Homo sapiens: one gene and its partners. The protein of the gene in region 1 purifies or fractionates together with the protein of each later gene. This does not show direct contact. Each region holds a gene or a part of one and is shown in the gene's direction. Other genes may lie near its edges.

What was found. Proteins that work in one complex are often made in the same cells at the same time.
Region 2: the proteins of KIAA0408 (region 1) and CMSS1 purify together in Homo sapiens (affinity purification with mass spectrometry; one large-scale study listed by BioGRID and IntAct). This does not show direct contact.
Region 3: the proteins of KIAA0408 (region 1) and SUPT6H purify together in Homo sapiens (affinity purification with mass spectrometry; one large-scale study listed by BioGRID and IntAct). This does not show direct contact.
Region 4: the proteins of KIAA0408 (region 1) and PARN purify together in Homo sapiens (affinity purification with mass spectrometry; one large-scale study listed by BioGRID and IntAct). This does not show direct contact.

Annotation. Positions count from the first base shown.
Region 1 is NC_000006.12:127,452,890-127,456,389, reverse strand, and holds part of KIAA0408 (uncharacterized protein KIAA0408), read left to right. Parts: intron 1-2,288; 5' UTR 2,289-2,408; coding exon 2,409-2,543; intron 2,544-3,500.
Region 2 is NC_000003.12:99,816,393-99,820,661, forward strand, and holds the start of CMSS1 (protein CMSS1), read left to right. Parts: upstream 1-1,469; 5' UTR 1,470-1,587; coding exon 1,588-1,651; exon of another isoform or gene 1,652-2,080; intron 2,081-2,527; exon of another isoform or gene 2,528-2,582; intron 2,583-4,269.
Region 3 is NC_000017.11:28,700,205-28,703,179, forward strand, and holds the end of SUPT6H (transcription elongation factor SPT6), read left to right. Parts: coding exon 1-46; intron 47-141; coding exon 142-308; intron 309-736; coding exon 737-924; intron 925-1,234; coding exon 1,235-1,421; 3' UTR 1,422-2,475; downstream 2,476-2,975.
Region 4 is NC_000016.10:14,581,761-14,585,260, reverse strand, and holds part of PARN (poly(A)-specific ribonuclease PARN), read left to right. Parts: intron 1-469; coding exon 470-512; intron 513-838; coding exon 839-914; intron 915-2,969; coding exon 2,970-3,080; intron 3,081-3,500. UniProt on the Homo sapiens protein: 3'-exoribonuclease that has a preference for poly(A) tails of mRNAs, thereby efficiently degrading poly(A) tails.

The DNA of each region.
Region 1 (3,500 bases):
GCATCTTTCAACAGTAGCATGGAAGCGATTCAAGAAGAGTTAGGAATAGAAGGAAAAATTGGAGCCATTTGCTACATAATTGTAGAAAAGACTTTATGGTGATTTCTGAACATTTCCAATGTTTAAAGACAGTTGGGATAAAACATGGATTTATCATAGCTCCTCTTTTCCAGGTAGCTTGAAATTAGTCTGCATCCTTTTTTAGTTTCTTTGGTTAAATCTGCATTTATCTCTTATTATCTCAAACCACACCATTCTTCCTAAGAAGTTCCAGTGGCAAATACTTTCTAGTCAGCAAGGTAGTTTCACCACACAGTTAATTACGTATAGTTTTAAAGCAGTCTGCTAGTTTCAAGACAGGCACTGTCTGCATTTCCTATGAAGAATTGTTAGACGAACCTAAAAGATTACTAGGTATTCAAGATCAAGATCAATGGAAATTAGATTAGCCAAAACAAACAAAAACCAAAACTCTGTATGTTCTTTACCATCTTTATTTTATTTGTTCTTCACTGACATTTATTATGGCAAGTACTTGTGGTTACTGGTTTATATGTGGGAAAGATAGCAAAGAAAGGGGTGACAGAGGAGGTGGAGAAATGAGGTCAGAAATTGAGCATGGCCAAATGGATAAAATGAGATATGATAGCACCTTTAATAGCCAGATATGAAATTATGTATTTTTCGTGACTGAATTAATCATAATAGTGCTAGTGCCAAAGACATAGGAAAAAATTATCAAAATATCTTTAGTAAATAGTTTGAGAGTAAAGTAACAATATAGATCCCAAAATTATTAGGGTGTTTTGAAGGTAGAACCCTGCATATATAGCTAACATTTTTCATTTCTTATTCTATTCTAATTCATTGATCGTGACTCAAAAAATACAGATTCAAAACTGTTTACTAGTCAGATATGTATGTTCACAACAGTCTGACAAAAATAAAATTAGTGTTCGATATTTAGCTGATATTTAGGATTTGAAATATGCAGTTATCTTCTGTGAATACAAAATTGGCACTTGCTGCTTGGGTATGTGGCCTTAATTCGGCAGTGCCAGCACCCACAAAGCTATTGACTGTTGGGATCTTTGTCCGTAATTAGCATTAGCTGCCACCAGTAAGTTATAGCATTTTGATAATGGCTTAGTGACTGAAGAGTTAGACATCTTATAGGCATAATTATCTTAAACAGAGATTCAAACATTTTAAACATGCTTTTCTACCCCCTAAAAAGGCACATGACTTATTTAATACAAAATTATTTTTAATTGAAGTCACAATGAAATTTTGTAAAGCAAAAAATAGAAAACTTTCTTAAATTTCTCAAACTACTTTGCATTCAGTATGCCATTTAATCTTTTTAACAGTTCTATGACTATCCCCATTTTAATGCAAAAAACTAAATCCCAGAAATTTTAGACTTATACCAGTTACATAGCTGGTATTTTAAATTCTGACTTCAAACCTTAAGTACACGTCCCTGAAGGCTAGAAAGTTAATTATTTCAGTCACTACTTAATGTAATAGAGGATTCCCTGAAAACTGAGCAAAATGTTTTCTTCAGTTCCCTGTATTCAATATCCTAAGCAGTTTATGGTATATAGCCTATTCAAAGGAAAAGAGAGCATGGATAAATTTTAACGTATATTTCACAGGATAGTTTTGATGCTTCTAGATTTTCCTTGATGAAGTGACATAATGAATATATTTTTTATAATTTAGATTAGTTTCTGGATGATACATCAGTCCTAAGTTGACTACCAACTTTGGGGTCTTCATAAGTAACACAGTAATGACATTTGGCACAGGCTTGATCTCTGAATATAGAATTAAGACTGCAAACCAGCTCTGTTTCAGGAATTTAAGTCATAAGAATATATAATCAGGTTGCATCAGAACAGAAAGAATAATTTTATTGCAGCAGAATCTGTCACAGTGTGTAGATGTGAGCATACATTTGAATTGTATACTTACACTCTTATTCATGAAAAAATCTATTTTTAGAGTAAGTGGTTAAAGGGATGATTACATCTCACATGCGCATTTAATCATCTTGTCCACTATAATTTTGCTGTCTGGTCTCAGAAAGGGAAAAAAACTTTGGACAATACTTATTACTTTATTGACTGTGTTAGTTTCTTCTTCTTAAGTAGACTGTTGTCATCTCTTTTCTTTTGAGTCCAATTTTCCTATAGTTTGTTTATGTCAATGGCTCGACAAAATGATAAAATATATTTCCAGAAAGCACATGGATTTGGAACTCTCTCTTGTTATGTTTATATTAGGCTTTATTTTAAAGGCAAGTGAGACTGCTTCAAATAAAACAACTTCAAGCTTCCAAGAAACAGTTAAGAGGAGGCAGAGAAGAGCAGAAACACTTCTTTGCTGACACTTACACTGTTGCCATGGACCTACATAAGCAGTGGGAGAACACAGAGACTAACTGGCATAAGGAAAAGATGGAATTACTGGACCAGTTTGACAATGAAAGAAAGGAATGGGAAAGTCAATGGAAGATTATGCAGAAGAAAATAGAAGAGGTACACTTTAATTTGTTTTGGATATACTGTAATGTTTAAGTGCAGGATGAAAATTCTGTGGGCTGTTTTGTATTGGAAACTGTTTTTGATTTCCTTATTCGACCTAAGAGGTACATTTCTCAGTGACATTTACTAGAACAAAAATAGCATAATCTTATCCAATGGTATTGTAAGGATTATTTTATATCATTGCATGAAAATTAAGCATTTGAAATGTCACTCTATAATGTTTCAACTTATTATTTTCTGGCTAGAGAGCTTTTTTATCAAAAGTGAGGTATGTATTTTGCATGAATTTTCAAATACCAGGTCCAGGAGTAAAATGCAAGAAAGATATACTTGGTGGGACATAGATTAGCAAAATTATAGTTGGGCATTAGAACATAGATCTTTCCTAAGAAGATTTATGAGTAATGTCTATTAAAGGAAATTACATGTTAGATAATGCAGTATAATCAAAAGGAGTATCATATATCAAACAGAAAATGGCAGTAGACATGAGATTTATTCTATCAAGGTGTGCACATTTAGTGGCATATTTATTGGAAAAGGAGTTATGAAAAATGACATATCACGACTCTGACACAGTCATTTTGTTCCCGTTAACCCTCCCTCAGTCCGTTGACCCTGAAATATTTCCTTCAAGCATTTGCATTGATGTATATTCAAGCTTTTGCACCAATTGGAAATAATTTATGCTTATCTTGCTTTCTTTTGGTAACATCCTTAGTATTGACTTTATATGGTTTTATGCACATTACCAAAGTTGTTATTTTAAGACTTCTTGGCCTTTTTTGCAGGCAAAGTAAGTGCTTTATGTGTTTATAGTACAGTCATGTTTCTTATTAACAGCCATGTAATTGACTGTGAATAAAATATGAATTGGCATAGTAGGAAGAAAGCTGAAGAAAAGTAACTATTAAGCCCTTCCTCTAAAATAGAGCTGAGAAGGCAGGC
Region 2 (4,269 bases), on another chromosome or scaffold:
CACCATGCCCGGCTAATTTTTGTATTTTTAGTAGAGATGGGTTTCGCCATTTTGGCCAGGCTGGTCTGGAATTCTTGACCTCAGGTGATTCACCCACCTCGGCCTCCCAAAGCGTTGGGATTACAGGCTTGAGCCACCGCGCCCGGCCCATACTTCTTAATTTTGTGATTTATTGCCTGAAAAACGGTCTCGCTGTGGTGTTTTTTTTGTATTTCCCAGATTAATAATCAGACTGAATTCTTTTCATGTTTATTAGCCATAGCAACTCCTCTTCCACACTGGCATTTCTTATCTTTTTCAAAAATCTATTAATCACGAAAATCTCGTCATCTACATTTCTTCACAAAAGCCATATTACTTTTGATCTTTATAGATTATTTTACATTTGCCATATTTATACATAATATCTTCCCTTTTGGGGCATTTAGAGTGTGCGGACAAAGTCTAGGCAGTAATGCATTTATAAAACATCTATGAGTTGGGTGCACACGGGGTAATTTTCCACATATGGCTAATCCTAGCCTCATCAGATTAAGTTTCCCTGTCTTGTCATTTCCGAGGATGTATCCTATTAGAAGTCTAGCCCTTTATTCCTACAAATTGAATTTCCACTACTGTAGGCTAACATCTGAATGGACTCATCTTACTATTCCATGCATAGTACCAGGCACGTTGCGTGCTTTTACTACATTTTGTATAATTTTTACGTCTGTGTTTGATGTCCTGAAAAATACCGTCCACAATTACTTCACAGCTAGCCCCAGCACTTGGCGCCCAGCGGGTTTTCCTAGTCCCTCCCTGCCAAATCACGTTGGGACTGAGACAAGAGGCACTGCGGGTCTCTTACCTATAGTTACGAAGCAATGGACTCCCTTATTACTTCGTTTCCCAAATAGGGGGTGGGACACACAACCGAGGGAGTATGAGGAAAACAACTTGCGGGTCTTCGAGCCACTTGCGTCTTTCTGTGGGCGAGCCTTTCCAGGCCAATTACATTTTCTTTACTCATATTGCATAAATAGCAGAACTACATTTACCACAAAGGCCCGACATTCATGGTCATGGATCCTTGCGCATGTTTTCTAAGAGCAAACTGTACAAACACATAAACTCTGAAACACTGACGCACAAGCGAAAACACACGCACATGTTTGGGTCTTCTCCCGCTGCGCAAGTTCTTTGAAACTGAGCGGAGAAAAATCGTCTTCACATGGTGTCTCACACTTTCGACACAATCTTATCGGGAAACGTAACACGTAAACAAAATTTTTTAAAATGCATTATCAAAAACGATGACAATCCCTTTCGTCTTATGTTCCTTTTTGTCTTTAAGCTTTGGGGGGATTTATGTTGCGTTTCCAAACTGCTTCTGCCTGTCGGCGCCTGTGTGGAAACTGCGACGAGTCTGGGAGCGGCTGCCGGAGAGGCGGGGCAGAGGTGTGACGTCATCGCCGCGGGGCGGAGGCGACAGTGTCTAGCGGGAGCTCCGCGTGTAGCTACGCCGGCCGCCTGGCTTTGAGACAACGTGATTCTCCGCAGCTGGTCGCCTACCCGTGATGTTCTGCCCACGTCGAGACCTGAGCTGAAATGGCAGACGATCTCGGAGACGAGTGGTGGGAGAACCAGCCGACTGGAGCAGGCAGCAGCCCAGGTACCCACTCTGTGCCCGCGCTCCTACGGGGCCTCTCCCGGAGCCCTTCCGTGCGCCTCAGCCCTGGTCGCTTCTGGCGATCGCGGTGTTTGCCCAGCAGGGGTGTGCACCGCCTTGGGAGCGCGCAAGCATCTCGGGGAAAATGGTGCAAGAGATTCTTTAACACGTGAAACAGACAGCTGTGACATTAACTCAGATCTGTCTGCCAGCCAGGAAGGATCCTTTCCACAAGCTTTCTCTTTTCCTTATTTCTTGAGAATGGATAAGACAGTTTTTGTGAAGAGAGGCAACTTTGTATGATGGTTAAGGGTGACCCATGAACTGCTTTCAATTCAGACTGAGGTCAGAAGCAGGGGTTGCTGCTTCAGACTCCCTCCATTCAAATCACGACTCCAGTATTCTGATACTGTTTAGCCTCCTTTTCCTCATCTGTAAAATAATGATAACAATAATGTCCATTTCGTAAAGTTGTGAAGATTAAGTGAAGTTAGTACAGTAATGCACTTTAGCATAGTGCTTGACATATAATGTGTGGTAAATATAAGTTACTGTATTTCTTGTGGTCATCATCATTATCATGGAATTTGGAATAGTAGAACTGGAAGGAGGCTTAAATAGAGATCATCCTTTGAACTCACTTATTTTACAGATGAGAAACATAACCTAAAGATGTCAAGTAACTTGACAAGTTCACAAAGCTAGCTCCTTTCAGAAACAATACTAGAATTCAGTTAACACAATTTGAATAGTTTCTACTATGCTCTGCTGTGTTTACCAACTCCTGATGCAGTGGGCATTTCATCCCCAAGTAGAGTAGCGTTAAGTGACCCCCCATGTCAGGCTAGCCTTGAACTTTTTAAGTTCCATCACACCTACCATGCAATTATTGGTTGGTTGGTTTTTATCACTCCTCAAGGTCTGCCTCTTTTCTCTACAAGAGAAGACAGGGCCAAAGTCAGATTCATACTTCTGTCATCCACAGGGCCCTGCACATGTTAGACACTTGATACCTATTTGCTGCAAACAATCTTGAAATACTAGTTGTGAAATATCCATTAAAAATAACCAACTTCATTTGTTGCATTGTTTCCGGAAGGTCAAGCCTTCAGGTACAAACTAAGCAGATGTCATTTTTAGAAAGGTAGCCAATACAACATTTCCTTGATTAAACTTCCTGACTCTTTTGCAGCCCTGTGGTGTTCCACATTTACTTTAATAACTACCCCTCCCAACTCAGGTGTTAAAAAGCTCTATTTTATGATATGATTGAAGATGAACAGAGGCCATTTAAGAAATAGTTGAATTCTGTTTGAGTGGTGAAGGGGATCCCAATTCTTGGTTCTAGTCCTCACTAGCTGTGTGACTTTCAAGTTATTCATCCGTTGGAAGAAAGGCAGTCAACATGTATTGAGTATCTATTATGTGACAAATGTCTTCATAAATATGAATTGATTTAACTTTCATAACATCCCGAAAAGGTAAGTATTCTCTTCATTTGTATAGGTGAAGAAACAGAAAAAAGTTAAGTCGTGTTCTTAGGAACACACATTGAAGAAGAGGTCTGGGAAGAGTTTAGTCAAGTGTGATTGATTTTGAAAGTCACGCTTTTCCCGCTACTACTTTGTGACTTCTCTGGGCCTTTGTATCATAATCTGTAAAGAGCCCTTAAAGATCATCTTTTTTAGGGTTTTACCAACCAACAGTTTTTTTTTTCTTTTTTTTTTTTTTTGACACGGAGTCTCCCTCTGTCGCCCAGGCTGGAGTGCAGTGGCACGATCTCGGCTCACTGCAACCTCTGCCTCCTGGGTTCAAGCGATTCTCCTGCCTCAGCCTCCCAAGTAACTGGGATTACAGGTGCCCGCCACCACACCCAGCTAATTTTTGTATTTTTAGTAGAGACGGGGTTTCACCATGTTGGCCAGGCTGGTCTTGATCTCTTGACCTCGTGATCTGCCCACCTCGGCCTCCCAAAGTGCTGGGATTACAGGCGTGAGCCACCGTGCCTGGCCCCCAACAGTTTTAAACACTGAATCTAGTAAAACTTTAAATCGCTACAGCCTCCTTCATCTAAGTTGCCAGAATTCTCATGAAGACAGTGTGTTGGAGTGCCTAAGATTGCTCTACTTCTTACATTCCTTCTAGCCATAAGACTAACCCTTTTTTTTTTTTTGAGACGAAGTCTCACTCTTGTCCCCCAGTCTGGAGTACAGTGGTGCGATCTCAGTTCACTGCAACCTCCACCTCCTGGGTTCAAGCGATTCTCCTGCCTCAGCCTCCCGAGTAGTTGGGATTACAGGAGCCTGCCACCACCCCCAGCTAATTTTTGTATTTTTAGTAGAGATGGGGTTTCACCATGTTGGCCAGGCTGGTCTTGAGCTCCTGACCTGAAGTGATCTGCTCGCCTTGGCCTCCCAAAGTGCTGGGATTACAGGTGTGAATCACCGCACCCGGCCAAGACTAAGCTTTGAAAATTGCTGGCATTAAATTTATCAGAGGCCTTTGCTTTGTTCGCTGCTCTTAAGCAAAGTAAGTATATGCCTTTATTTGAAATATCCTTGATTATTCACTGGCAATTTGCCTAATTGTAATCTGTACAGCGTTTCTAATTCAAAAGAAAT
Region 3 (2,975 bases), on another chromosome or scaffold:
ACACCTGCCTCTATCAATGCTACCCCAGCCAACATCAACCTTGCAGGTGAGGAGCTTGAGCCTGGGACTGGAGGTGGGAAGGATGGAGCTAAAGGGACTTTCACCTCTAACATGCCCCTCCCCACCTCTGTGTGCTTACAGATCTGACACGGGCTGTGAATGCCCTGCCTCAGAACATGACTTCACAGATGTTCAGTGCCATTGCTGCGGTGACAGGCCAAGGACAGAACCCTAATGCCACCCCAGCCCAGTGGGCCTCCAGCCAGTACGGCTATGGCGGCAGTGGAGGCGGCAGCAGTGCTTACCACGTATGTGGCTTGGGGAGGAAGCTCCCTGTGCAGGGTGGGGCCCATAGACTGCCCTCTCGCATTGCCCACAAGGGGCTTCACATGCACAGATGGGGCTGCCACGGCCTTGGTAACTGTCTCCAACAGATATTTCTTGTCCTTAGGCCCATTTGAAGGGGAAGAGGGTAAGAGAGGGCATAACCTTTCCACGGGCCTTTGGGATCTTTGGAACCCGCAAGCCACCAGAAAGTTGACATGGTCAGGACCAGTGGGCACCACTGTGTGCTCGGTGCTGACCTGCAGGCTTCCCACTGCTGGTCAGAAGCACATACTCAGTGGAAGATCATCTGGAAAGCTTTGCTGAGCCCACCCTTGCGCTTACCCAGAATTCACAGCAAGGCCAAACAAGCCCCACACCCATCCCTATTTAACTGTTCATGCCTCTCCAGGTATTCCCAACGCCAGCCCAGCAGCCAGTGGCCACACCACTAATGACCCCTAGCTACTCCTACACGACCCCAAGCCAGCCCATCACCACCCCTCAGTACCACCAGCTCCAGGCCAGCACCACCCCACAGTCGGCCCAGGCCCAGCCCCAGCCCTCTTCCAGCTCCCGGCAACGGCAGCAGCAGCCAAAGTAAGTATCTGGATGGTGGCACAGTGCAGGTCAGTGGTAGGGGCAGGTGTTGTCAAGAGGCCGAAAGGCTTAGCAGAGGCAGGTGCTCTGGATCCTCTGAGGGCCCTGACCACATGATATGCCAGGAACACTAGTTTCTGGGTGAAGACGGAAGAGGGCAGTATGGCAGCCAGCTGCTGCTGTATCTGCCTTATCCCAGTAGAGGGGCTGCTGCCCATAGGTATGAGGTTCCTTTCTGCAAGGGTACAGTGATTGGTGGGAAGACTTCCTTCTAGCAAAGTCCCAATCTCAACTTTTCTTCCCCTCCCAGGTCCAACAGCCATGCAGCCATCGACTGGGGAAAAATGGCGGAGCAGTGGCTGCAGGAAAAGGAGGCAGAACGGCGGAAACAGAAGCAGCGGCTGACACCTCGGCCCTCCCCCAGCCCCATGATCGAAAGCACCCCCATGTCCATTGCTGGCGATGCCACCCCACTCCTGGACGAGATGGATCGGTAGGGGGCCTGCTCCTCGGACTCTGGTTACCTCTGAGGCTGGGAAAGGCCTGGCTGCCCACTGCCTCCCTCCCTGCCCCTCCTTTTATGTCCATAAAGTGGCGTGAAGTGAGACGTTCTCTTTGGTGGTCAACCCGGATGGGTGACAGGCTGGATGGCCTTGTGAACTTGAGCTCAGTGTATGCTAGGCAACAATTCTCCCGCTCCAGACCCTCACCGACCACCTGTCCTGGGACCAGGCTGGGAGGGGAGTGTGGCAGGGAGGAGGAAGAGGAAGGTGAGAATGAGTAGAACAGTTTTGTATTCTACTCCCTACAAGCCATTTTGAACTTCTGCCCTCACCGGACTCTGGGCTGTGACTGGGGCACCAAACTCAGCACATGAGTCTCCCCTAGCTCTCGTGGGGAGAGGGATGCTATTTATTCAGTTTGGGGCAGGAGGGAGAGGAGGGAAAGTATTTCTGACCCTGATGCCAACAGCCGGGTGGCTGTCCAAGCAGGATTGCAGGGGACACAGGGAAGCACTGCCCAGCCCCTGCCTGGCTGCCCTTTCCCCCCTGCTGCTGCCACCGCTTCCTGCCTGTCATTTGAATAAACAGTGTTTCTATTGAGCTCTTGCCAAAGCCTCTCTCTCCAACTCTCCAGCTCTTTGAGGGGTGGCTTTCAAAGCAGTGTTTGGAGCTCCAAGGACTCCCCTGACTCCCTCTTCTGATCCATCAGAGGCAAAGATTCATAGACTAGAGGCAGCTTCTACATCAGACTGCCTGGGGCACATCCCTGCTCTACTTCCCAGCCGGGTGACCCTGTGCCAGTTCCTGCTGCCTTTCAGCTGGCTTTCTTACCTGTAACATGGAGATAGTGATACCTGCCTCATCAGCTGCTGTGAGGACCAAGGCAGCGTGTGCAAGCTCCTTGGCCCAACGCCTGGTACGTCGCAAATGTTACCCGGTATTATTACACCCACTCACTCACCCACAGCACAGCTGCCCCATCCGCCCATGCCTGCTGGTCTTCTCTGGCACCCTGGAGAAAGGCCACAAGTAAATCTGGATTTCTCAACTTGAGCCTCTGCCGTTCATCTCTTCCCTTTTCCCAGCTGGGCCTTGGTCTCTTGCAAGCTCTCAGCAGTAAGGTGTTCCTGCCCCAGGATGGGGCCCTGCTCACCTGCTCCCCTCCAACACACTGGCCCTGGCCCTTTGTCCCTGCCCCACTGCATTTTTTGTTCTGAACTCCTGCCATCCCTGTTTCTGCACAAGGGCTTCGTCTCACAGCTCTGTGAGTCAATGCTGGGAGAGTGGGGCCTCTGGCTCCCTTTCCTTTGCTTGGGGCTCAGCAGAGAAGTCAGAAAAGGCCACTGCTGCCCAGACGTGGCACACTCCCTCCCCTTGTTTTTCTTCATCAAGATCTGGGGGAAGGGGCCAGCTCTGCCAGGAACTCAAGTCAGCTCCCTTCAGCACAAAAGGGCTACAAGGGAGGAGCTAGACCACCAGCTGGGAAGGTCAGTCTCTGGTAGTACCACGAGCACCTTCTGCAGAGCCACTTAGAGGAGGGAAAGGCCA
Region 4 (3,500 bases), on another chromosome or scaffold:
CTGATTGTAGATTTTGGCCCTGCAGAAGAATTTATAGTTTACAAACCTGAGGAGTAGGAGTAGATGGTAGCAGTTTGGGAATGGTAGACCGGCAGCAGTATTTGAACCACGTAAAACCATGTGAGAGTATTTGACTCACCCTTGAGATTGATGGAGCCCAGGCTCTCTGAGGATCCAGGTGAATCTAGAACTTGTACTCCAAGTGTGGACTCTCCTGCAGTTGCTCAATGAAGTCGCTGATGATGGGACTGAGTACCTACTCCAACGTAGCAGGGATGCTGGTGCTGGGTTCAAAATGGCCAATGTGTTTAATTACTTTGTCTGTGTTTAAGTATTTTCTGTATTAAACATTTTATGTTTTAATTATGTTTTTTATGTATGAAGTATTTTAAGTAGCTTACATATTTGAGTAAAAGACATTTTAAACATTGATATACATTTTGTTTACCTTGTTAAAAATTCTTTTTAGACTCTTGGATACTAAATTGATGGCCAGCACACAACCTTTTAAGGTATTATTCATTTGCTACTTTATAAAGCGACTGCATATTACTGAGTGAAATGAATGCCAGAACAATATAGCCTTCTGGCAAAAGGTTTGGAGGTATTTAATGCATCTGTAAAGATCTTTATTCATTTGGTTATACTTTGTATATTATAAAAATTAAACTAGCTGCTTCTCTTTCACATTGAAAAAAACGAAGACTTCTGTGTTTCTTTAAAGAACACAAGGAGACAGTACTAGATGCTGTCTTTTTTTTGGGGGGGTCAGTGAATCTCTTTAATATATTGTTCTGAGATGATGAAATCTCATAATTCTTTGCTTCGTGGTTTGCAGGATATCATTAACAACACATCCCTTGCGGAATTGGAAAAGCGGTTAAAAGAGACACCTTTCAACCCTCCTAAAGTTGGTAAGAATATTAAACCGGAAACCCTCCAAACTCTTTGTAATAATTATTGATGTATATTGTAGAAGAAAAGCAGAATGGCTCTGGAGACCGTATTGTTCATTTATAGATTTTGGCTGAATTCACTTGCACGTACCGTGTGTTGAATTATTGTTTTTTGAATAAAGATGGTCTTTTAATTCTACATATATTTTATGTTAATGGAGTTGGGTAGCCATTCATTGAGAATTTTAGCAATTAAAGCTTCAAGGCTTCTATTTTCTAATAATATGGAATTCTCCTAAAACTTGATGTGCCCTTTTATTCTTTCATACATTATTGAAGCAGAGACAAAGAGCTAGTGATTAATCACCAGGGGTAGAGTAAAAAATATATTTTCCATCTCAGAAAAGCCCGAGAACTGGATTTACAGGTGAGATTAAGGCAAGTCCCCACCCTGCCTCCTTTTCAGCTGGTTTAGAGAGTAGAAACAGCAGCACTGAGGAAAACCAGAAGTAGGGAGATGAGATGGAGGTGTTTTGCCACCTCGGGCCACCACCAAGGTATGTGGAGAGCCTACCAGGTGCTACTTCCTTGGTCCCTGTTAACCTGATTGTGCTGCTGATACGGTGATTAGCGAGCCATTAGTTGTAGCCTGAAAACTTCTAAAGACATGGATAATAGGACTAATGGTTTAGAAATTGATAATGCAAAGTATTAAAGCAGCCAAGATTACAGTTATTTGCCCCTTTCTGGGTAATAGTCCAAGAAAGGAATTAAGAAAAGTGGTGGTGGGGCCATTGGGGGAGAAAACGTGGACCTTTTCTATAACAATATAATGGAAATAATTGATTTTGGAAAGAATGTGTCTCAGTTGATGATGGAGTGGAAGATATTACTTAGGTGGCTACCATGTTAAAAGGCTTTTTTTTAAAGGCATCAAGTCTAATATTTAATATGGAGTTAAAGAATTCTTGCTTAAAGAGCATTGTATTGACATAAAAACAGTTACAGCCTTTTCATTGTTAATTTCCATTTATGCTTTTGATTCTGTGTTATAGTAACCTTCCTGACATTCATTTCCAGAATGGTTCTAGGATATAATTATTTATGAGTTATAGTTTTATGTTATTATTTCCATATAAAATAGTGGTATCTGGTAGAGAATTCAGTCTAAAGCAGGTCATTCCTCTTATAGTTTATCTGGTCACATCTGTATTTATCAATGTCACAAAAGAACCATATTGTATATAAAGCGGTCTTTGCTGTAAAGTGGTTCCATGATCCAAGGCCAGCATTATAGCAAGTTCGATTTATTTTTGGAGTTGGTTGTGCTGTCACCTTTCGATCTCTAAGCTTGGGAACATAGTAGAGGACAGTAGTGAGTTGGAGCTGTTGATAGTGAATTGCAGTCTTCTCTTTTTTTGGGGGAGGGTTGCCTCAGGTATTGATAGATAACAGTTTTTGAGCACTTACTATGTACCAAGCACTAGGTAAGAGTTTAACTTATATTATCTTATCTGATCCTAACAATAACCTTTTGAAGAAGGTTTGATTATCATCTCTGTTTTACAAAACTGGAACCTTAGGGATGAAGTGACTTGCCCAAGGTCATACCGCAAATAAGTGGTGGAGCAGAGATTCGAACTCAGTGTGACTCCAGAGCCCATGCTCTTAATCTTTACTCTGGATCATCTATTGTGGCCTGATGTGACCATCTTGTATAAGGGAAGAATATCCTTTTCATGGCCTTAGAAAGCAAGCAGAAGAGGAATCATTGTCCTAGAGTGAGTTATGGATGATCATAAATAGCACCCACCAGTGTGGGACGAGAAAGCCCACGGCTGAGTCCTTTGTAATCTAACTGAGGCATTTCTGTATCCTAGACCAAAGCCCTCCTTTTCAGTGACTCTGTTATCTTGTATTTTAAGGTCTTATATAGAGAGAATTAAGGAATAGATAGCTTTTTTCTGCCTATTTAGGGTATTTCTCTAGCATATGCTAATGCAATTTTGATTGGTAGGGCAATGTGCTTACTAGTCTTTGTTTTGAGGAAAACTTTTTCCTTTTTTTTCTTAGAAAGTGCCGAAGGTTTTCCAAGTTATGACACAGCCTCTGAACAACTCCACGAGGCAGGCTACGATGCCTACATCACAGGGCTGTGCTTCATCTCCATGGCCAATTACCTAGGTACGCATTACATGTCTTTCAGTCAAACACGCAGTGATCTAGGGTGGATCTTACCTGTCTCCTGGCTTAGGCTGCTGTAATAAATTACTGTCGAGTGTGGGGCTTAAACAACAGACATTTATTTCTCATGTTCAGGAGGCTGGAAAGTCCAAGACCCAGTTGCCAGCAGACCTAGTATCTGGTGAGAGCCCACTTCCTGGTTTGCAGATGGCTGCCTTCTCCTGTCCTTACGTGGTGGAGAGCAGAGAGAGCAGAAGCTGTGCCGCCTCTTTTTTAAGAGTCAGGGTCTCACTCTGTCACCCAGGCTGGAAGTACAGTGGTTCAATCATAGCTTACTGCAACGCTGAACTCCTGGGCTCAGCCTCCCAAGTAGCTGGGACTACTGGTGTGCATCACTGTGCCTGGCTAACTTTTTAATTT